2 separate regions of the Homo sapiens genome follow, and region 1 is linked to region 2. Evidence: fine-mapped expression QTL. A gene starts in region 2. The other region holds a variant in brackets. All regions are shown on one strand. Distances are from middle to middle.

Evidence for each region. PIP is the estimated chance that this variant, and not a neighbour inherited with it, causes the effect.
Region 1: its variant is fine-mapped to the expression of NEFM in fibroblasts (GTEx, PIP 0.98).

Annotation. Positions count from the first base shown.
Region 1 is chr8:25,002,810-25,014,266 of GRCh38, reverse strand. It overlaps LOC105379330 (a long non-coding RNA gene), which reads right to left. Exons shown (of 3, transcript XR_949591.2): 2 at 5,680-5,873; 3 at 4,226-4,549. Among named protein-coding and RNA genes, the nearest start is that of NEFL, 52 kb to the right of the region's middle. The variant A/G (reference allele first, on the strand shown) is at 6,280.
Region 2 is chr8:24,909,264-24,920,720 of GRCh38, reverse strand. It overlaps NEFM (neurofilament medium chain), which reads right to left and starts at 6,960. Exons shown (of 3, transcript NM_005382.2): 1 at 5,848-6,960; 2 at 4,992-5,116; 3 at 1,628-3,660. The coding sequence starts at 6,927. The coding sequence ends at 2,115. It overlaps LOC112268023 (a long non-coding RNA gene), which reads left to right. Exons shown (of 3, transcript XR_002956698.2): 3 at 66-617. RefSeq lists an enhancer at 6,543-7,316.

The DNA.
Region 1 (11,457 bases), 94 kb before region 2:
AAATTTGTTTGTGTTCATTGTAGATTCTGGATATTAGCCCTTTGTCAGATGAGTAGGTTGCAAAAATTTTCTCCCATTCTGTAGGTTGCCTGTTCACTCTGATGGTATTTTCTTTTGCTGTGCAGAAGCTCTTTAGTTTAATCAGATCCCATTTGTCAATTTTGGCTTTTGTTGCCATTGCTTTTGGTGTTTTAGACATGAAGTCCTTGCCCATGCCTATGTCCTGAATGGTATTGCCTAGGTTTTCTTCTAGGGTTTTTATGGTTTTAGGTATAACATTTAAGTCTTTAATCCATCTTGAATTAATTTTTGTATAAGGTGTAAGGAAGGGATCCAGTTTCAGCTTTCTCCATATGGCTAGCCAGTTTTCCCAGCACCATTTATTAAATAGGGAATCCTTTCCCCATTTCTTGTTTTTGTCAGGTTTGTCAAAGATCAGATAGTTGTAGATATGCGGCATTATTTCTGAGGGCTCTGTTCTGTTCCATTGGTCTATATCTCTGTTTTGGTACCAGTACCATGCTGTTTTTGTTACTGTAGCCTTGTAGTATAGTTTGAAGTCAGGTAGCGTGATGCCTCCAGCTTTGTTCTTCTGGTTTAGGATTGACTTGGTGATGTGGGCTCTTTTTTGGTTCCATATGAACTTTAAAGTAGTTTTTTCCAATTCTGTGAAGAAAGTTATTGGTAGTTTGATGGGGATGGCATTGAATCTATAAATTACCTTGGGCAGTATGGCCATTTTCACGATATTGATTCTTCCTACCCATGAGCATGGAATGTTCTTCCATTTGTTTGTACCCTCTTTTATTTCATTGAGCAGTTGTTTGTAGTTCTCCTTGAAGAGGTCCTTCACATCCCTTGTAAGTTGGATTCCTAGGTATTTTATTCTCTTTGAAGCAATTGTGAATGGGAGTTCACTCATGATTTGGCTGTGTTTGTCTGTTATTGGTGTATAAGAATGCTTGTGGTTTTTGTACATTGATTTTGTATCCTGAGACTTTGCTGAAGTTGCTTATCAGCTTAAGGAGATTTTGGGCTGAGACGCTGGGGTTTTCTAGATATACAATCATGTCATCTGTAAACAGGGACAATTTGACTTCCTCTTTTCCTAATTGAATACCCTTTATTTCCTTCTCCTCTCTGATTGCCCTGGCCAGAACTTCCAACACTACGTTGAATAGGAGTGGTGAGAGAGGGCATCCCTGTCTTGTGCCAGTTTTCAAAGGGAATGCTTCCAGTTTTTGCCCATTCAGTATGATATTGGCTGTGGGTTTGTCATAGATAGCTCTTATTATTTTGAGATATGTCCCATCAACACCTAATTTATTGAGAGTTTTTAGCATGAAAGTTGTTGAATTTTGTCAAAGGCCTTTTCTGCATCTATTGAGATAATCATGTGGTTTTTGTCTTTGGTTCTGTTTATATGCTGGATTACATTTATTGATTTGCATATGTTGAACCAGTCTTGCATCCCAGGGATGAAGCCCACTTGATCATGGTGGATAAGCTTTTTGATGTGCTGCTGGATTCAGTTTGCCAGTATTTTATTGAGGATTTTTGCATCAATGTTCATCAAGGATATTGGTCTAAAATTCTCTTTTATGGTTGTGTCTCTGCCCGGCTTTGGTATCAGGATGATTCTGGCCTCATAAAATGAGTTAGGGAGGGTTCCCTCTTTTTCTATTGATGGGAATAGTTTCAGAAGGAATGGTACCAGCTCCTCCTTGTACCTCTGGTAGAATTCGGCTGTGAATCCATCTGGTCCTGGACTTTTTTGGTTGGTAAGCTATTGATTATTGCCTCAATTTCAGAGCCTGTTATTTGTCTATTCAGAGATTGAACTTCTTCCTGGTTTAGTCTTGGGAGGGTGTATGTGTCGAGGAATTTATCCATTTCTTCTAGATTTTCTAGTTTATTTGCGCAGAGATGTTTATAGTATTCTCTGATGGTAGTTTGTATTTCTGTGGGATCGGTGGTGATATCCCCTTTATCACTTTTTATTGAGTCTATTTGATTATTCTCTATTTTCTTCTTTATTAGTCTTGCTAGCAGTCTATCAATTTTGTTGATCTTTTCAAAAAACCAGCTCCTGGATTCATTAGTTTTTTGAAGGGATTTTTGTGTCTCTATTTCCTTCAGTTCTGCTCTGATCTTAGTTATTTCTTGCCTGAGAAGAAGTTCTTTTCAACTGAAACACTGCTAAGTTGGGCTGCAGCTGAGCCCAGGCTCTCTAGTCTGTACCTACTCCTCTATTCATTGGTTATTTGGTGTTAAGAGGGGATACTAGGAAGGGGAGGCTGGAGGGTTGAGGATAAATACTTCTGATGCCACGAGTTTACCATAGCGTGATATAAACTGAGGGACGGGAAGGTAGTTGGACCATCTTTCATCTCCCAATTTCTTCTCAAACTTAGTGGGTTAAGGAGGGCAGGTGCCAGAAAAAGGTTCAAGGAACATGTTCAGTTAGGCCTTAAATATGCATTAAACATCTAAACTGTGCACAGAACTTTACTACACAATGTTGATATAACAATGTCCAAGTAAAGATAATTTAATTGTACATTTTTAACTAACTAAAAGAGTAAAATTAGATTGTAACACAAAGGATAAATGCCTGAGGGCATGGATACCCCATTTTCCTTTATGGGATTATTACATATTGCATGCCTGTATCAAAACATCTCATGTATCTCACAAATATATATACCTATTATGTACCACAAAAGTTAAAAACTAAAAAATTAAAAATCAATCCAATACACAGTTTCTTTCCATGAAGTACTAACATGCTAGTTGGGGAGATAAGATTTCTGCAGAACCTCTCTTTCAGGAAGGCTTCATAAAGCTGATGGGTTCTTAGCTGTCTGAGAATATACAAATGTTGGGAAAGTATAGGAGTGGTCTCCATGGTGTCTCAAGGTCCCTACTAAACTTTGGAGACCCTGAGACCTGTTTGATGTTATCATCAGTACCTGTAGCATTGGCTTCATCCTGAGACTTGATCACCTATCTGGCTCACTGAACTCCAGGGGGCTCTAAAAGTTTTTCCCATCCTAAGGCAAACAAACTCCTTCATTGATCCCAAGTGCAAAACCTAAAATGACTGTATAACTCTTTCTACCCTGACCCCACCCCTTTTTCTTTTGAGGACAAGAAGGCTTCAAAATTAAGCCAATCTGCTATTTGTAGATTTGGAGAATGTTCTCCCCTTTCAGATTTTCAGGTTTCAAGTTGCATCCAAAAGAGAAGAGACTCAGTCCTCCTCTCCACTGACAGAATACGACCTCAACATGGGTAGGAAAGTTCACAGACAGAAATAAGCTTTTGGGAAGAATGGAGCCAATGAGGTTTCATAACAGAAGGAGCACAGGATGGAGGAAGAAAGCTAAAGTTTTGCTGATTCACAAATGGGTCCAAGTTCAGGTGAAGACACATTCCCATGTGGGCAGATTGTCCAGTCTTTGCTCCCTTGGTGTCATTTTACCCCCAGTAACAAACTTTAATTATAACAGACCCATAACTCGGCAATTAAGAATAATTTATGTCCCTTTCCTAAGGGAGAATTAATCGCATATGCCAGACAGGATCCCTTTATCATTTTGTTAACTAGATAAGAAGCAGAGAGCTCCTTTTATTCGAGCCACCCTAAATATTGCAGTCTTTGCCATATAGCTCTAGGCAGTAGTTATCTTTCATTTTGTACCAAATACATTCTGAGTTCTCAATCTCTCATTTCAAAACAAATGAAAAACAGAAAGAAACTTAAAAGTAACAGGAACAAACTGTGCTTTCCTCGGCTGTAATCAAATTATTCCTTTTGTCCTGGCATTAGACAGTAGCTGGCAATAAAGAAAACCCCAGGAGCACAATATTCCCGTGATTGCGTCAGCATGGAAGATTAAACTTCCATAGCATTCAGGATGTCTCAGCTTTGCCCCTCAAACAAGAGGCTCTTACTGTCATCTCCACCATTTCATAGTGAAATATGTTTCTGCAGTGTTAGGGAGAATTTATGAGTAGCTCAAAGCTTCCTGTCTGAAGATACTTTCTCCCAGAAGCAAAGGAAAGGCAAGAAAAAAAAAAAATCCAACGCTGAAAATCAAAATAGATCTTTGTTTAGTTTTATTTAAGAAAATTTTATACCTTTGCAAAGCCCATATTGCCTGTGTAGGTTTCTAAACTAGAACAAACAGAACCCTTCAAAAAATTCCTAGTGAAGCAAAACTTTCATAGAATCACAATTTATTCTCTCAGAAGAGATGAGTCATTGTAATTTGGGTATCATGATTCACTCCTGCGCATAACCAGAACACTGGAACAATATTAATTACTCCAGCCTCATTTTCACTACAAAAGTCACTTCCAACTCCATCAGTTTTCAGTCCAAAAGAACATACCAAGTTTGGTAAAGAAACTTGAAGATCATTTTCTCTCTGCTTTGATCTAATTTTTTTAAAAAAAGACTTTAAGTTTTCAGATGATAGATTATATTCTTGAAAGCTGGAACGCAGATGCAGCATCTCACAATTCTACCAGGAACAGAAGAAATCTGGAATTGGAATGGAAGATGAGGTTGCTGTGAGCAGAGAGGGAGATGGGGTTTGTATTAAATTAGCTTCCTAGGCCCACTGTGGTGGCTACACTTGTAACCTTAGCACTTTGGGAAGCCCAGGAGGAAGGATCACTTGAGGCCAAGAGTTTGAAACCAGCCTCGGCAACATAGTGAGAGCCTGTCTCTACAAAAATTTTGAAAAACAAAAAAAGTGGCCTGGTGCGGTGGCTCACACCTGTAATCCCAGCACTTTGGGAGACCGAGGCTGGCAGATCACGAGGTCAGGCATTCAAGACCAGTCTGGCCAACTTGGTGAAACCCCATCTCTACTAAAAATACAAGAAAAATTAGCCAGGAGTGGTGGCAGGCACCTGTAATCCCAGCTACTCGGGAGGCTCCAGCCTGGGTGACAGAGCGAGACTCCATCTCGAAAAAAAAAAAAAAAAGGAGAAAAAGAAAAAGTTTCATAGGCAGACCAATGACTGTGGAGCATCACAGTCTAGGAGTGCAAGGTGAAAACCTTTTTATTTCCACACAGAGGTCAAATATTATTTATATATGCATACCAGGAAATTACTATAGCTGACGTTTCACAAATCAGGGCACCTGGTTCCCTATGACAGACCCCAAGTGTTCCCTGATTCAAGAATTTATGAGACAGTGGGCTCCCAAAGAGGCAGTCAGTCACCTACTCAGTGTATAGCAGTGCCAAAAGACCTCTCTATCCCCAGTGTGCCCCACCCTGCTGACCTTGAGACCCTCCCCATAACGTTGAAATTATCCACTTTTAAATTACTTATAGGTAATTAGAAAAAAAAAAAGGTAACCCAAGGTGATGGTGTATTTCTGTAAGACCCATGATAAAGCTGTTGATAATTTTCTGGCCTCTACGGTACTGTCTTTTTTTTTTTTTTTTTCTGACTTCTTAGGTTGCTAAAGACTCCTTGAGAACTTTATGCAATCGGTTGCTCTTTCCAGAAAAATATACAAATACATGGATGTTAGTGTGTAAATTCAGATGGATCACAAATCTCCTGAAGTCCACCCATGAAAACTACCCGTCTCTTTGCCCCTCAATTCTGAATATCTTCCCAACAGCTCACTCTCACCTCCTGTACAAGTCTCACCTCCTCCATGATGTCTTCCATGGTTTCCCTCATCTGAACACTTACAGTTCATCTGAGCACCATCTTCACTGCTCTTTTGCGCTATTGCAGAAAGTGAGTTTTCTTTTCATTCACTGGTGTCTTGACTTCCTGAATAATGATACGCTCCTCGAAAGCACGCATGTTGTGTTCTTGAACTTTATATCTCCATAGCACTGGGGAGGAAAGAAGGAATTCTGCTACGCCTAATACCCAACACACACTTTCCCTTTTCCAGTGTACATTTCTTTCCTTTTCTTTTTTCTTTTTCTTTTTTTTTGAGAAGCAGTCTCGTTCTGTCACCCAGGCTGGAGTGCAGTGGTGCGATCTCAGCTCACTGCAACCTCCGCCTCCCGGGTTCAAGGGATCCTCCTGCCTCAGCCTCCCAAGTAGCTGGGACTGCAGGCGCCCGCCACCATGCCCGGCTAATTTTTTGTATTTTTAGTAGAGACGGGGTTTCACCGTGTTAGCCAGGCTGGTCTTGATCTCCTGACCTCGTGATCCGCCCGCCTTGGCCTTCCAAAGTGCTGGGATTACAGGCATGAGTCACCACGCCCGGCCTCCAAAGTACATTTCTAATAA[A/G]TTCAACAGTTTCATAAACAACATATTTATTGCAACAATATCACAACATTTTGCAACAGCTTCAGAAATAGTGATTATTTATTGTGACAGTGTTGCAACATTTGTGACAGCTTCAGAAATAGTGGCATTTATTGCAACAAAGTGCAACATTTTAGAAAGTTGCAGCTGATACATGTTTCCTCCTCCCACTCTAAACAGAGACTTCCAACACAGAGGGAACTTGGAGAGTGCTGGGGGGTACTCAGCAGAATGGAAGCCTAACCGTTTCCAGGGAAACAATCAGTAAAGACATTTCCCTGGAAAGCCTGCGTTGCTAACTGCAGTGCCACCCCTGAGGGCTCCATTCATGATTTAAACACTGGATATGAAAAATAATCAGAGATTTAACCAAGGACACTACCAGTTTAAGCCCTTGTAGAGACACTCCTAATTGGAGCAGTTTCGGTGTGATCCCTCTTTTCTCCTTCACACAGGCCCCAGTGGCTTTAACCTACATTTCTGTAAAATTTGGAGCTTCTACCACACACGCATCAGGGGTCATCTCCCTCAAGCTTTCCTGAGAATGAATTTAAAGTCTGATGATTCTTTCAGTTACTTGCCTCCTTGTCATCCATTAGCAGTAAACTTTCACTTTTTCTTCTTTTCCCCTCATCCTAGGATCATGTTACAATTTAGTGGTTACGAGCTTTGGTATCAGACTGACATGATTTTTAACATTACCAGCTGTGTGACCAGGAGAATATGACCTAACCTCTGAAAACCTCAGTTTCCTCATGTGTCAAATGGGAATAATTGTACCAGTTTAAATTTGTTGTAGAGATTAAAAAATGAAACCAGGGCCAGGCGCGGTGGCTCATGCCTGTAATCCCAGCACTTTGGGAGGCCAAGTTGGATGGATCACGAGGTCAGGAATTCGAGACCAGTCTGGCCAACATGGTGAAACCCCGTCTCTACTAAAAATACAAAAATTAGCCAGGCATGGTGTTGGGCACCTGTGATCCCAGCTACTCAGGAAGGAGGCTGAGGCAGGAGAATCACTTGAACCCGGGCGGCAGAGGTTGCAGTGAGCCTACACTCCAGCCTGGGCAACAGAGCAAGATTCTGTCTCAAAAACAAAAACAAAATCAAAAACAAAACAAAACAAAAAAACAAGAAACAATGTGCACAAAGTCTACATTAAAATAAAATCGTGTATACTGCAATGTCTAGCACATAGTAAGTGCTTAAGGAATGAATAGTCCATCACAGTTTCTAGATCCTTTGCTAGGTTATACTGAGATGACTCTAGAAGCCATCAGATTGTGCTAAAATTTCTCTGTCTTGAGTAGATATGAAACTGACTTGGACTGGGACCAAAGGACTCAAGCAATATCCTACCAGGACCTGCTTCCAAATTCTTCAACTATGGACCATAGCTGTAGGAAATAGTAATTTCTACCACAGTGTTGATGTGTACATTAAATCAGCTTTTAGATAGATAGTGTCTAGCCTGCTACCTATCACGCAGGAAGTACTCAGTACAGGCTAGCGTCCCATCTGCAGCAGTTGTACCAGCCAGGGCATAAGAACAATTACCTTCAGGGAGGCTTCTCTAAGAATGTCTGGACCTGGGTTCTCTTTTATATTTGTCCATTTATTTACCATTTCCAGCTTCTTTGTTCCTCCTATAGATCTTCCATCTGGTACCATTTTACCTTAGTCCTTGGATCTTCACCATTTCTTATAGTGCAGGTCTGCTAGTAACAAATTGTCTCAGATTTCATCTATCAGAACATGTCTTTATTGATCTCTTTTTTCCCCCAAGGATCTTTTCATTGGACACATAATTATGACTTTACTTTTTTTTTCAGCATTGAAAAGATGTCTTTCTTTCTTCTTTCTTTTCCTCCCTCCTTCCCTCCTGCCCTCCCTCCCTCCCTCCCTTCCTTCCTTCTTTTGTTTTTGACAAAGTGTCTTACTCTGCTGCCCTGGCTGAAGTGCAGTGGCTTGATCATAGCTCACTGCAGCCTCAACCTTCTAGGCTCAAGTGACCCTCTTGCCTCAGCCTCCCAACTAGCTGGGACTCCAGGCACATGCCACTGGGTCCAACTTGAAAAGATGTCTTTCTGTTGTCTTCCGGACACTTTCTCATAAGAAATCAGTGATCATTGTTATCCTTGGTTCGACGTATGCAGTGTGTCTTCTCTGGCTGCTATAAGACTTTTTTTTTCATCTTCGATTTTTCCGCAATTTGGCTGTAATATGCCTACGAGTAGTTTAAAAAATGTTTATCCTGTTTTGTATTTGTCAAACTTCTTGGATCTGTAATATAATCAGTTTTGGGATTTTTTTTCAAAATTGCCTAATCTGACTCTCTTTTCTTTCTGAAGTTTCTAATTATAATTATGTATGTTAGACTATTTGTGTTGTTCCACGGTTCCTTGAGTTTGCATTTATTTTTTTTCAGTCTCTTTTCTCTTGTTTCTTCAGGTTGAATAGTTTCAGCTAATCCATCTTCAAGTTCACTGATTCTTTTTTCTTGCCATCTCTAATAAGCTGTTAGATTTTTCATTTTAGTTAATGTACTTTTCAGTTCCAGAATTTTGAGATAGTTATTTTCATTACAGTTTTCATTTCTCTGCTAAGATTTCCTATTTCTTCATTTTCAGACCTTGCTTTTTCTTACATTAAATTTTTTTTTTTAATTTTAAGTAATGGGGTCTCACTATGTTTCCCAGGCTGGTCTTGAACTCCTGGGCTCAAAAGATCTTTCTGTCTCAGCCTCTTGGCTAGCTAGGATGCACTGGCATGCACAACTGTACCAGCTTCTTTCATTCTTTGAACACATTTTTATTCAATTTTTTGATATATTTATCAAAGCTGATATAAAATATTTTTCTGCTCAGTTCAATCTCTGAGCCATCAGGTTGGTTATTATTGACTGCTATCTTTCTTGACTACAGAGCATATTTTCTTACTTTCTTGTTTGTCTAGTGATTTTTTTAATTGAATACTAGATTTTGAATAGTATGTTGAAGAAATTCTAAATTCTGTTATCTTCCTCTGAAGAGTGCTAATTATTGTTTAGCAAGCAGTTCAATTACTGGCTGATCACCTTAATCAAGTCATTTCCCAAGTTCCTCTACCTTGATGGGACTTGGCCTTCAAATTCTGTACTCCCCACCCCCCAATTATTTGTCAAGGCTCCGTTTTAGGCTGTGTTACTGCAATTCTGGAATAGGTCTTACTCTAGAACGAGCATGTTTTGACCCTCAGACCAATCCTGCCTACTCTCTATTTTTGAAAATATTGGAAATGAGTCTTGGAACACAGACATGCTATTAATTTGAGTATTTTTTTATGACTGATTTTCTGTTACAACAGCAGAGTTGAGTAGCTGCAGTACAGACCATATAGTCTGCACAGTGAAAATTATTGAACATATTGCCCTTTACAAAAAGGTTTGCTCATCCCCGCTGTAGAGGTTAGCCCTTATTGCTAAACAAAAGCAGTTCTGGTGTCTTAGCTGGATTTCAGGAGTGTTAATAAAGTGTTTTTGAAATCTCTATTCTTTCCAGGTCAGAATTCCAAAGTCTTTGGGCACAACTCTTCCCCCAGCATTGCTAGTATCTTTTCCCCCACAAATATTTGCTAACCTGTGAGTCCCAGGTGGTCTCCTGCTCATCTACAGCCCAGTCCGCAGTCATGACCTCACAAGGGGTCCTCATATGGGATTAGGGTAGTATTCTCTATAAAGCTACCTCCTTGTTGATGCTCCACCCTGCAGATTCAACTATTTCAGCTTTGCTAAACTCTGTTCTCTCTCTGTTCGGCCCAACTCTTGAGCCCTGCTTGGACCTCAGCTCTCTGTGCTACAGTTAGAAAAATCTCTTCCAGCAGAGAGCTGGATGATTTGGGGGTTCACCTTGTAAGTTTTTCTCTCTCAGAAATAACCATCTCTGGCTGTCTGTTGTCCACTGCCAGCCTCAAATATTTTCTCCTGGCTTTCTAGTTGTTTAAAGCTAAAAAACTAGTCCAGTACCAGTTACTGCATCATGACTAGATGTACAAATCCTTAAAGTTCTTTTTAAAGCCTCATCTCCCTCTTGGCAGATGATATCTTTCAGAGTCTGTGGCTCAATTTCTCATTTCTCCTCCAACTCCCAGCTCAATGTGTCTTCTCTTCTTTAAAGAGGCCAGGTTCTCTTAGGAATTTGCTAGTAATTTTCTATTTTCTCTCCCAGGGACATCTGCAGTTCACAGCCCATTTGCAAAAGGAACCAACTAACAGCCCCTGAATGTAATGACTGATGCATCCCTTTCCAACTCTGGTAACTAGCTCTGCCCACTCCCTTTTGTTCCCTAGGATGACTCAGGAAAACGTCCACACACCCTTCATGCTTGTGAGGCTTTAGAATTATACTTCACAACCACAAATCTTGTTAACCTTAATATGCGTGCACATTTCTATCTGTGGAAGAAGAATGATTGATCACAGGCTCATGCACAAAATAATCAATAGATAACCCAGTCAATTCTCATCATGACCAAGGAAAGAAGGAAAATAAAGTTTCATTTATTCAGGAACAGTGATGTGCCAAGAATTCTGCTAAGCACTTTTACATACATAATATGGCTTAATTCTTACTGTGACTTTGGAAAGATGATATTATTAATCTTTGTCTTGAATAAATAAAAACCCCGAGGCTTTGAGAGATTAAATAATTTATACTAGCTCGCAGCAGTCCATGGTGAAGTCCTAAAGCTGGGTAGGTCTGTGTGACTTCAGAACTCTTTCCCAAACATCAAATGACCTCACCAAAAAGGATAAGCCCCGACATGCACAGTTTATAAGGCTACAAGTTTTGTGACTTACTCTTTTAAGTCTGTTCTTTGTTTAAACTGATTTTACTTGCATAAAAATGTTAGGATGGGAAATAGTACATGGTATGCTTTTTCCTAAACTGAAATCAGCCTGTCTGGATACAGGAGAAGAAGCCAAGAATGGAAATAGAAGTGTTGTTGGTTTAAGAAGCCAAATTTTCCTCTTCTTTGATCTTAGTATTTATAAGAACATCATCTATCATTGATTAAGCACCTCTGTCCACCCCTGTGCTAAGCATTGCAGATGCATCTAATTTAAGCCCCTCAGTGAAACTGTGAGGTGGGTGTTATTGCTATGCCCCATTTTTAGAATAA
Region 2 (11,457 bases):
CATTTAAAAAATTCACATAGATCGTATCACATAACTCCAGCCTCCATTCCTACTTCTGATAACAGCTCCCAGACTTTTCTGTGAAGAGCTGCAGTGCTGTCATTGGAGTCAGTTTGGGTGAGACTATCAATCAAGGTGCTCCTCTTTGCTAGCAAAGGTGTGTGGCAAATAGATGATGCTCTGTTCCTGGAATTCCAATGAAGTGTCACAGAGTTTTCAGTTTAATCCGCCCTGTGACTGCGTGATGATTCCTGCGACCTCTGACCCTGGGGCTGTCCGAGCTCCTCTCTCCCAACCCCTGACTCCTCTGCTGATGTTTTCACTCTAGGAGTTACCCTGTGTCCTTCCAATATGCTCTTTTTTATTTTTTAATTCTGTATCACTAGATCAGTTTTTTTTTTTTTTTGCTGATTATATTTAAATAATCCTGTGTCACTTTGCGTGTCATGGATATTTTTGCTTCAGAAAAATTAACATCTTAACTTAAAACATAAATTGTTTTAAAGAAAGAAATCTGAATACATAATTGTACAGATAATACTCAGATGTAGCCAAAATTGTGAGGATTGGCAAATGGCTAATGATTGGGAAACAATAAAAACTGCCGTTAACAATTAGCTTCCTGGGTATGTTTAGGCATTAAAATTGGAGTTATCTTGAAAAAGTCATTGAAAATATATCAAGGATTGTATTATTGAGCTGATCCTATTAATGAAAAAACATGGACTTGGACAGGATAATGTGCTAATTAATATATTAATGGTCTTCAAGGCCTAAAACAAGTTTTGAAAAGGGGATGATAGTATTTCCTTGGTCAAGATCATGTCTTTTTATTTAAAAACACTTATTGCCTATGTCACAGAATCTCATTTTTCTTTTCTCAGGTAGGGTATTTTATTTATTTTTTATATCATTTTCCACAATTAGTAAAATACTAAAGGTGTAAATCTCTGTCAGTCAAATCAAGCATTAGTGATGCAGACAATGTGTATGTGTGTGTTTGTGCACAGGAGGCATGCCTCTGAGGCTGGATAGTTCCGGGTAGGAGTGTTAGTGATGTCAGCCCTGTCCCCACTGGACACATCGTCATAAATGCCATGAGCTCCTCTGTCTCTGTCCCAACTCCAAGGCACAAGTTATGAACCCCTCCTTTATTGGTCCTCTTACCTAGAGGTTCTGAGTTCTGTTTTGGGATAGAAACAAACACTGAAGATTTCTATCCCACCAGATTCCTATTTGTATCTGATGCTTTTATTTTTATTTCAAAAATATGATTTTAAAATTTTGGGATGAAGACCGGGCTCGGTGAAGATGTTGACACCTGAAAATATCTTCAGCAATTACGTTTTCCAAGTAATTGCTGTCAGGGAAATAGCAATAAGATGTGCAGTTTACTTATGATTCCCCCCAATAATCTATTTCAGGGCAAGAAAGCTTCAGGTAGTGGAGATTTCACTTTGAAATGGCATAACAGGCTGGGCGTGGTGGCTCATGCCTGTAATCCCAGCACTTTGGGTGGCTGAGGTGGGAGGACTGCTTGAGGCCACATAGCAAGACCCCATCTCTAAATAAAAATAAATAAATAAAAATTAGAAAAAGAGAAATGACATAAGACTCAGCAATTGACTATGTTTCCAATATGACCTTTATTGAGCAAGTACTGCTGTGACGTTTAACATCGATCAACATAAGATTGCAAACTGTGCATGTCAACGAGGTTCTCCCATGAACAAAAGTCCATTTTAAATGCACCAGTGAGGTAAACATAATTATTCATATATAGCTTTCTTAAGGCTGAGTTCTGTGTTTCGTTTATTGTTTTTGGCTCAGTTGGTACTTTGCATAATACATCTCAAGACATCCCCCCTTAAGTGACCCCCTTCCAACAGCTTAGGAAATCGGCAAATTTCCCAGGTACATACAATATCATGCATTTGAATCCCCCAAAGACTGAGGAGGGAGCACCCTGAGCTTGCATGCAGTCCCCTCATATTGCACAAAGTAAAATACAATGTCTGGAGCCCCCATGGGAGAACCCGTTCTGTTTTGAAGCTGCCAATCACATGCATTTTGAAATTGTCATATGGCTTAACCTTTTGCAATGGACTCAAATCTTAGTCACTCTGGGTGACTTCCTTTACTATGGCGTGTGAAGTGACTTTTTCTACCTTTTTAGTAGACACTAGTTTCTCCTCAAAGGTCTCTTCATGCTCTTCAACCTTTTGAGTGACGGTTACAGATTTAGTGATGTATTTGGTAGCACCATCTCCCCCCTCACTGGTGATTTTTTCTACCGTTTTGGTCACCACCACTTTCTCCTCACTTTTATCACCCCCCTTCTTTTCATCTGCTGGGCTCAAGTCTAGGCCATTGGTGACAACGCCTTTCTCCTCTTCCCTCCCACTGCCTTTTTCCTTGGTCTCCTGCTCTACCTCCTCTTTTCCTTCTACCTCCCCATTGACAGCTATGTCTTCCTTCCTGGATCCCTTGGCACCTTTATCACTCCCTTCCTCCTCACTTCCTCCCTCTCCTCCCGCTTTCTCCTTCTCTTTCTCCTGCTGCAGTGGCTTCCCCTCTTCTTTGGTCTCTTTCTCCAAGTGCACCTTTACCGATTTGGTGATGGTGACCACCTCTGCCACAGCTTCCTCCTTTACAGGGGACTCAGCTTTCTTCTTCTCTGGCACATCCTTTGGTTTCTCTTCCTTTTTCTCTACCTTCTCTTCCTTGGGAGCTTCCTTGACTTCCTTTTCTTCTTCCTCTTTCTGTTCACCTTTCCCCACTTCTGCTTTTGACTTTGCCTCTTCCACTGGTGATTTTGGCACAGGAGATTTGGCTTTCTCTTCCACTGGTGATTTTGACACAGGAGACTTGCCTTTCTCTTCCACTGGTGATTTCGGCACAGGAGACTTGCCTTTCTCTTCCACTGGTGACTTGGGCACAGGAGACTTGCCTTTCTCTTCCACTGGTGACTTGGGCACAGGAGACTTGCCTTTCTCTTCCACTGGTGATTTTGGCACAGGAGACTTGGCTTTTTCTGGCTTTTCCACCTTGGCATCTGCCACCAGCTCCTCCTTGGTAGCCACTTCCTCACTCTTTTCCTCCACTTTCTTTTCCTCTTTAGCTTCGGCTTCCTCTCCTTCAGCTTCAGCTTCTGTTTCTCCTTCTTCCTGCTCACCTTCCTCTTTTTCACTAGAGCCTTCCTTCTCGGATCCTCCCTCTTCGGCTTGGTCTGACTTAGCTCCCTCATCTTCTTCCTCCTCTTCTTCCTGGCCTTCTTCTTCCTCCTTTTCCCCTTCCTCTTCTTTAACTTCAGGTGCAGTTGCTTTCACTGGAGACTTTTTGGCAGCTACTTCTTCTTCTTCAGCTTCGGGTTCCTCTTCCTTTTCTTCTGCTGCTTCTTTCTTCTCTTCCTTCATGGAAACGGCCAATTCCTCTGTAATGGCTGTCAGGGCCTCTTCCATTTCTGACTTCTCATCCTCCACTTTGGTTTCCTCTATGATCTCCTCGACAAATTTGTGTTGGACCTTAAGCTTGGGAGCTTCCACCTTGGGTTTCTGAATCTTACTGGATATTGTGATTGGGGGTCGGTGTGTATACAGTGGCCCAGTGATGCTTCCTGCAAATGTGCTAAATCTAGTCTCTTCACCCTCCAGGAGTTTTCTAAGGAGAAAATCCAAGAACATAAGACATAGTAAAAATTTCACTAGGCCTTCTGAGCTTCATTACATTCTGGGTATTGTGGTAGCTACCTTTGAATAAATAGAATTACATAAGTAGAATATTCTATGAATTCACTATAATACCTGCTATCACTTACTGGCATATTACATTATACTCAGTGACAGAGAAAGATTCTCCTGGACTGCCAGACAGTTGCCCCCTACAATGACTAACCTTGCCCAATAGTCCACTAACCACACCCAGCTACTAAGTCTTGGCCCTGCAGTAGAGATCCATTAGGTACAACATGAATATGCTGAAAAACTTGTTAGTGGCCAAATAGCAAAAAACAAAAACAAAAACAAAAAAACAAAAAGCCATAAACAAAACGCCCCCAAACTCCAAAGCCAAACAGCCTTTCTGAGAGTAGTCACTTTCTTAAACGTTTAGATTTTCAGGTGTATCGAGTTATAAATTTGTTGATAATTTTTATCATAAAGTGTCTATTTAATGTAGTTATTCAGCTTTCCTGAAAAGAGAGATAGCTCTGTAAATGCAATTTATTCTCGTTATATTATAACTACCTTATTGGTAGCAGAAAAATTTTAATCAACGATTTTGTCCTTTGCGCTTAGTCAACAGCAAGGTCACTTCAGTTAATAGACCTATAACCTATCTCACTATCTATAAAACGATCATATATATTTGTGTCTATATATCTAGATTTATATGCATATGCACATATGTGTATCTATAGATCTAGATTAATATCATACATGATATATTGATATAATTTATACTACAGTCTAGCATAAAATATAATACATATAAATTATCTACATATATAAAAGAACTATATCTATATTCTATCATTCTATATCTATTCTCAGCCAGATGATGGCAATAGTAAGCTATATAACAGAGAAACAGAGAAATAGAACGTCCTGGTGTTTGTCCTTGACATTATACATTTGAAAAGCTGAAACCACTAGATGAAATATTAGAAACCAAAACTCTGTTCATGCTTCCAGCATTTGAAAACATTTTTCCATAAAAAGTTTAAGCATGTGCATTGAGATTAATCTGCACCTCCTTTGTGTAATTCAAAAACCTTTTGTTTCTACTAGTATTCATTCTTTTAAAGCTGCATAAAAAGAGATAAAACTACACTTGCAATTCTTTAGAATAATTTCTTTTTAAGTAAGCAAGATAACCAGGTGCTGAGTTGATGCCTGCACCCTGCCTGCTTTAACTTAAGTGGTGGAAGCTCTGCCGGAACAGCCTCTGCACTGCGGTTAGTGTTCCGGCCACGCACGTAGTAAGCATCGTACCTGTACGCAGCGATTTCTATATCCAGAGCCATCTTGACGTTGAGGAGGTCCTGGTATTCGCGCAAATGACGAGCCATTTCCCACTTTGTGCCCCGAAGCTCATTTTCCAGCTGCTGGATGGTGTCCTGAAACAGACACAGAGAATCTCCCCAGACTCATCCTTGCAAACAGCAACTTCCTTCGCAAACCACTTGCTACCCCTTCCCCCTGGCCTCCTCCCGTCTCCCTCCACTTCTGCAAACCTCGCTGACACCTGACTCCCAGCCCCCCGTCCCACCCCCTTTTTCTTTTAAATCTAAGCGATTCTCAAATGAACATACAAGATCAGTAAGACAATAGGACACTTCCTGGGCACATCACGCACGGAGACCAGTGGACTTAGAACACGTCTCAACAGGACACAAACATGCATGGGGAAACTCCATGGCTGACCTGGCCATTCCCATCTGAGCCCTTTGGGCTGAAGCCAATTTTGAGAGCTCTTCCGATCACTGCCGGAAAAGTAGAGAATACACGCGTTTCTGCATAAGCTATCCTAAAGTTGCTGATTTATCCACTACCGAATTCATCCCTCCTGCTTTAAACGTGCAAGCGTGCAAAATTAGAACTGGAAAAGATGCACGTTTCTGAAAAAGGTCAAGACCCTTAGCAGCTGGGGCAGGTGGGTGGGGGCGGAGTGTGGAGGATGAGATGGGCGAGGACGCTGATCCGCAAATACCCTAGGTCTGCGGCGCGCGTGCTCTAGCGAGCGGCCACCAGGGAGCGCGGCGGAGAGGGCGCCTGGGCACGAGCCCAAGTGTCGGGGGCGCGCGGCGCTGGCGCTGGCGCAGGCTGGCCGCGCAGCCGCGGTTCCTACCTGGTAGCTGCTGAGGTCGTGGTTGTGGCGCTCCTCGATGTCGCTGAGCTGCCGCTCCAGGGACTCCTTGGTGCCGCGCACCGACTCTAGCTCGATGCTCTTGGACTGCAGCTGGCGCCGGTACTCGGCGATCTCTTCCTTGGCGGAGCGGATGGCCTCCTTGTTCTGCTCGGCCGCCTCGGTGAGCTTGGCGTAGCGGCATTTGAACCACTCTTCGGCCTGGTGCATATTCTGGTCTGAGTGGCTTTCGAGCTGGGAGCGGATTTCCTTCAGCGCCGTCGAGATGTCTGTCTTCAGGTAGTCTTTGCGCTCCACCGTGATGTGCGATGCCTGGATCTGGGCCAGAAGGTCGGCCACCTCCTCCTCGTGGTTGCTCCGCAGGAAGGCCACCTCATCCTGCAGCGACTGCACCTTCTTGTCCAGCTCCACCTTGACCAGCGACGCCTCCTCGATGTCTTTGCGCAGCGCGCGGATGGCCGCCTCAGTGTCGTCGCGCAACCGCGCCTCCTCCTCAAAGCGCTCCTTGAGCCGGTGGATGTCTTCCTCCAGGTGGTCCGAGTCCAGCTGCACCTGAGCCTTCTCGTGGTTCACCATCTCCAGGGTGGCGCGCAGCTCGCGGATCTCCTGGTCGTACGCGTCGCCCAGCTGGGCGTGCGAGGCCTGCTTCTGCCGCAGCGCCTGGATCTCCGCCTCAATCTCCTTATTCTGCTGCTCCAGGTAGTGCACCTTCTCTATGTAGCCGGCAAAGCGGTCGTTCAGCCCCTGCAGCTGCTCCTTCTCGTTGGAGCGGGACAGCTTGTAGTCGCCGCCGGGTCCGGAGCCGCCGTTGAGCAGGGACGAGGACTGGCTGAAGTCAAGGCTGCTCTCGGCGGAGCTGAGCATGGCCGAGCTGTAAGCGAGGCGCGGGGCGAGCATGCTGCGCTTATAGGAGGAGGACACGGTGCTGGGCGAGCCGCGGGACCACGACTGCGAGCGGAAGCCACTGGACGGGGAGCCGCTGACGCGGCTGAAGCTCGAGCGGGTCTCGGTTACCCGCCGGTAGGCGGACGGGTTGCCCAGCGAGTCCAACGTGTAGCTCATCTTGGAGGCCTTGGGGCGTGTGGCTGTCACAGCGTTCTGCCGGCCTCGCCGCAGCCCATTTATAGCCGCGGCGCTGGTCCCGGGCCAGGGCCCCGCCCCGTGGAGGCGGCGGCCGAGGAGGCGGGGACTGCGGGCACCGGTCGGGGAGGAGGGGAGGGGGGCGGCTGAACGGTGATTCAGCGCCCGCTCCACGTGGGCCCAGGCCGCATGGGAACCTGGACTTTTCTGCCCTGGGCCCAGCCCCTCCCCCAGGTCCCCTTTCAGTCCCAGGCTACTTGTAGCCGGGCATTCGCCTTCTTTCCATTTCTCACCTCCCGATTGCGTTTCGCACCCTTGGTGCGAATATCGCCAGCGCCCTTTCTTTGTCACTGTCCCGCCGTTCAGGCAGCGCTTCCCCGACCCCGTGGTCCCCTTGTTCTTTAGCCTTCTACCCTCTTATCCTCAAGGCTTTCTCTTATTTTGCCCTTTCCCTGATACTTTTTTCTTTACCCATCTTCTGTGCTTAATTTCATCCCCTTCTTTTTTGGCCCCTCTTCTCCTTCCTACTCTGGCCTTTAGTCCAGTTCACCCTGCCCTTCTCTCAGCCCCTTCCTCGGAGATCCTTTTCTTCCAATCTTTCCTTCTCCCCGTCTCCTCCCTCCTTCCCCTTGCATTCCCTCTTTTCCCCTCCCCCACCCTCATCTTTTCTTGCCTCCCTCCCCTTCCCCCACCCCTTGTCTTAAAGCAGCTGGAGATGAGCGCCGAGGAGCTGGGTCTAGAAGACAAAACAAAACAAAAAAAAAGACTTTGCGGAACGGTCTGCCTGAAGGCTTCGGGAAGGGGACAAAGAGAACAGGCCGGGGTAGTTATTTGTATAAAAAGTGGGATATGGCGTTTTTAACGTTTGGGGGACGTCCGCAGCTTCCGCAGGGGCAGAAGGTAAGGCGCTTGTGCTCGCTATGGCGCCGGCAGCACCAAGGACAGCGCCCAGGTCGGCGAGTGGGAGGTGCAGCCACCCGGGGGGCTTGTCACCCAGCCTGGCCTGTCAGGTTGGCAGGGGGCAGGGGGTTCCCTTCCCCCTCTTCTCTCCGAGTAAATACAATTTAAACCTGCCTGTAGTGACTATCTTTGCAGGAGCGAAGCTGGAATCACAGGCTAAGACTTCCCTGCAATGCAGGGTTGGCACAATGGACAGATCGCAGATTTTGAAAACAACCAAAATTCATTAAAGTCAGTTAACAGAAATATATACTTGTAGCCCAGTTTGAGTTTTCTAACATATGGTGGTATAGGAAATGAAGAGATACAGGGCCTGAAATGTGAAGGTCAAATACTCCTTGGAAAGGAGAATTTGAAATCTGTTGGGATGAAAAGTCCAGGGAAATATAGTTTTTCTTAAGTTTGGACACAGACAATTGCCTTGTCATCTTTCGGTTCAGTATTCCCTATGTGTAACTGCAATGATTGAAAAGGCATCTGAATTAACTTTAAATTGATTTAAAAGTTGCGGAACAGAGTCACCACAACCTTGAATAAAATCAGATGTTTTCCCTTCATTTAAAATGTAATATATTTTTCGCTTTAGATTTTAATGATTGATTTGGAATAGATTTTCTATATCATTAAACATGTTTATGCAAACAAGAACTCTACACAGACTTCTTGCTGTCTGGTGTACTCCTGTTAAAATGTCCCTTTATTTTGGGTAGTGCTTTGGGGGTAATTCAGGTTAAAAAAGTTCAGAATACTACAAGATAAAGTGAAGAAGAGATTGCAGAACTAACAACAGCGCTGGGGCCACAGGTACAAGTGACTGAATGTGCAACGCTTGCTATGGGTGAGAAGAAACTACTGCTTATAAAAAGTAGGGACTCCAGACCGAAATAGCTTCTTTTCACAGCATGTTTCCTTAAGTCCCTGTTTTATTAAAAGACAGGATCATATTCATCAGTAAGTAATCAGGAAAGGGGTGGGTTTCTAGAGGTTTTATTTTTTATTTTTATCAGCTCCCTTGGCCCATCTGTATTAAAATAGAAATAATGTTTTAAACAGGAGGTGCTAATTTTGGGAGTTACTTTGGTTTATTAATATGAAACTGCAGTATCGCAGGCCATGTAGGAGAAGGATGTTCTAGTTTGCTGAGAGACCTTAGGCAAGCAGAGCCCATCCATGTCTTGAGTTGTTGAGAGAGACAGATGATGGAATGAGGGGACTGACTTGTGAATACTGTAAAAACAGGATTTTCTGGTTTTATGTAGATAAATAAAGGCAAGGAGAAAGAAAATTCCCTGCCTTCTGTAAAGTATTGCGGATGTCAGGCTGGACTCAGCAGGATACCATCTAGATAAGGCCAAATGCTAATTATGCAGTAATTTTGCCTTTGTTGCTTATTACTTTCTGCTTTTATTGAAATATATAAAAATCCTTGGCAATTTCATGGTGCACATTCACTGCAAACTCTGCAATGAGAGTACATGGTTAACCGGCAGCCTTCTGCTGTTAATTTTCTTTAGGGCTTTGGAAACGAGATGACTCTGCAGAGAGACATTTACAAGGAAACACATGTCTAACTTCACAATTACCCAGTTTTGCCTTGTATCTGAAGTAGCTGAGAAATTGTTCAGCTTCCAGCTGGTTACAGAAGGAGGAAAGTGTTGCGTACAAACAAAATAAGTCAGTTACTCAGGCTACATCTAGTGCCTATAACTTAAAATTGTAACTTCAATGTCACATGATATATTGTTCAATCTGGGCACTACAGGATAATGCAAAGAATTAAAACAGTTGTTTTATTAAGAAAAAACAGTTCCCATGGCTTAAAAAATGATGGATCCAGTTTCACATTTAGCAAAATGTTTTCTTTTATATTAAACTCTTCCACTTTAACTACTCTTCCTAAAGGTGATTTGAAGGTTATACCCATCAGTAAATTTAGTATGAAAACTTTTTTTAAAAAGCTATAAAAGATGTTTTTCCCTTTTTGTCTCATAGTTTTGAAGAATATTTACCATCTTAATAGTTTTCACAGAAAGAAATGCTTTTGCATTTTTTTAAACCCTAAGAACACTAAGGCTATGAAATCTTCTCAAAATATTAAAAAGAGAGAAAACAATCATGGCAACTCACCCGGATTAACCACACTGCATTCATGGAATTAAGTTTGACTACGATACTTTTGTAATTTATTCTAAATAGAAAAGTTTCTCATATGATTTAGATGTAAGACATTTTAAATGAAATTATCTCTGAATTGTTGTTTCATAAGCTACAGTCTGTTTTGAATCACTTTATAGAGAAATACAAGGCATGCTCCAATCTATATGTTCCTTCAGTAGGGAAAGTGAAAATGTTAACTTTGCAGCTAAGAGATGATAGCCACTGTCAGGTTTTGTAGGGTGTCATCTAATACTGGGAAAATATCATTTGCAAAGGTGGTATATTTACTGGGTCATAAAATAAAGATAAAAAATAAGGAGTTAGGCATTTTCTCCCATCTTTCCCTATTTCCTTACATTTCTTCTTTTAAATAGCATTTTTGGATATAAAAAAATGCAAGGAGGATGGGATGTAGGAACTGGATAGCAAGAAAGATACTCCAGATGGACAACGTCACTTTCAAATTGGTAGGCTGAATCCATCCAAGATGAGATGATCTGTACTTTCTTTCAACCTATTGTGTCTTGAACTTAATCCGTTTGCCTGGGATCTGGTTCTAGAACTCATAATAATTATTTATAACCTGTCCTCTGCTAATTGTTTAAGGGGTTGTTGATGTAGGAAGCTAGGGACTTAGTCTGCCGAAGCAGGAACACAAGAAAAAGGAAGCTATATTACATATTTCTACTTGATCCTCAGGATGTCAAACTTTAAAAGCAGTGTTGACTTTTGATTTTGTTGTTGTCAAGAGTTGAAAGCAAAATAAAAATATTCTCAGGGGAGAAAGACTGTTTCTTGTCAGGGAAATTGGGATGTATATGTATGTCCCTATTGTCTTTGATCAAAACAAATCCATCTAGACCACAGTGTTCCTTTTCTGTCATTAGGCCACTGAAATGGTGTTTGTTTCCCTTGCCAAATATTTTATTCTTTGAATATTGCCTTCTATTTGTCAGTTACTGTTATGATGAAGTTAATTGAAGTATTTACAAAACTTAAAACATTTAATCTTTATTATATTCCAAATGTTAAATTAATCAGTTTTAAAATTCTATATCTGGAAATTTCATGTGTGTGGTGGGGGAAAATTTAGCTTTTGGCTTTAACATAGCTTGCTGATTTTTTTGCTGTGTAATGCTTTCACCTCTCCACTGTGAATCCTTTCTGTGAAAGCCAGGGGAGAAAGATTTAGAATTTTAAAAAAGTACTTAATAGAGCCTTGGTAAAAGTGACTCTAAAAATAAAGTTCAGTAGATGCATAATAAAAGAGTACTCCTGTATTAATTTTCAGCATGTTTTTAACTGAACCCATTAGCTTTACCTATAAAGCAGCAACAGATGTTGATGATATGCACTTGAATTTTGAAAACCCTGCCTTGCACGTAACTGCACCAG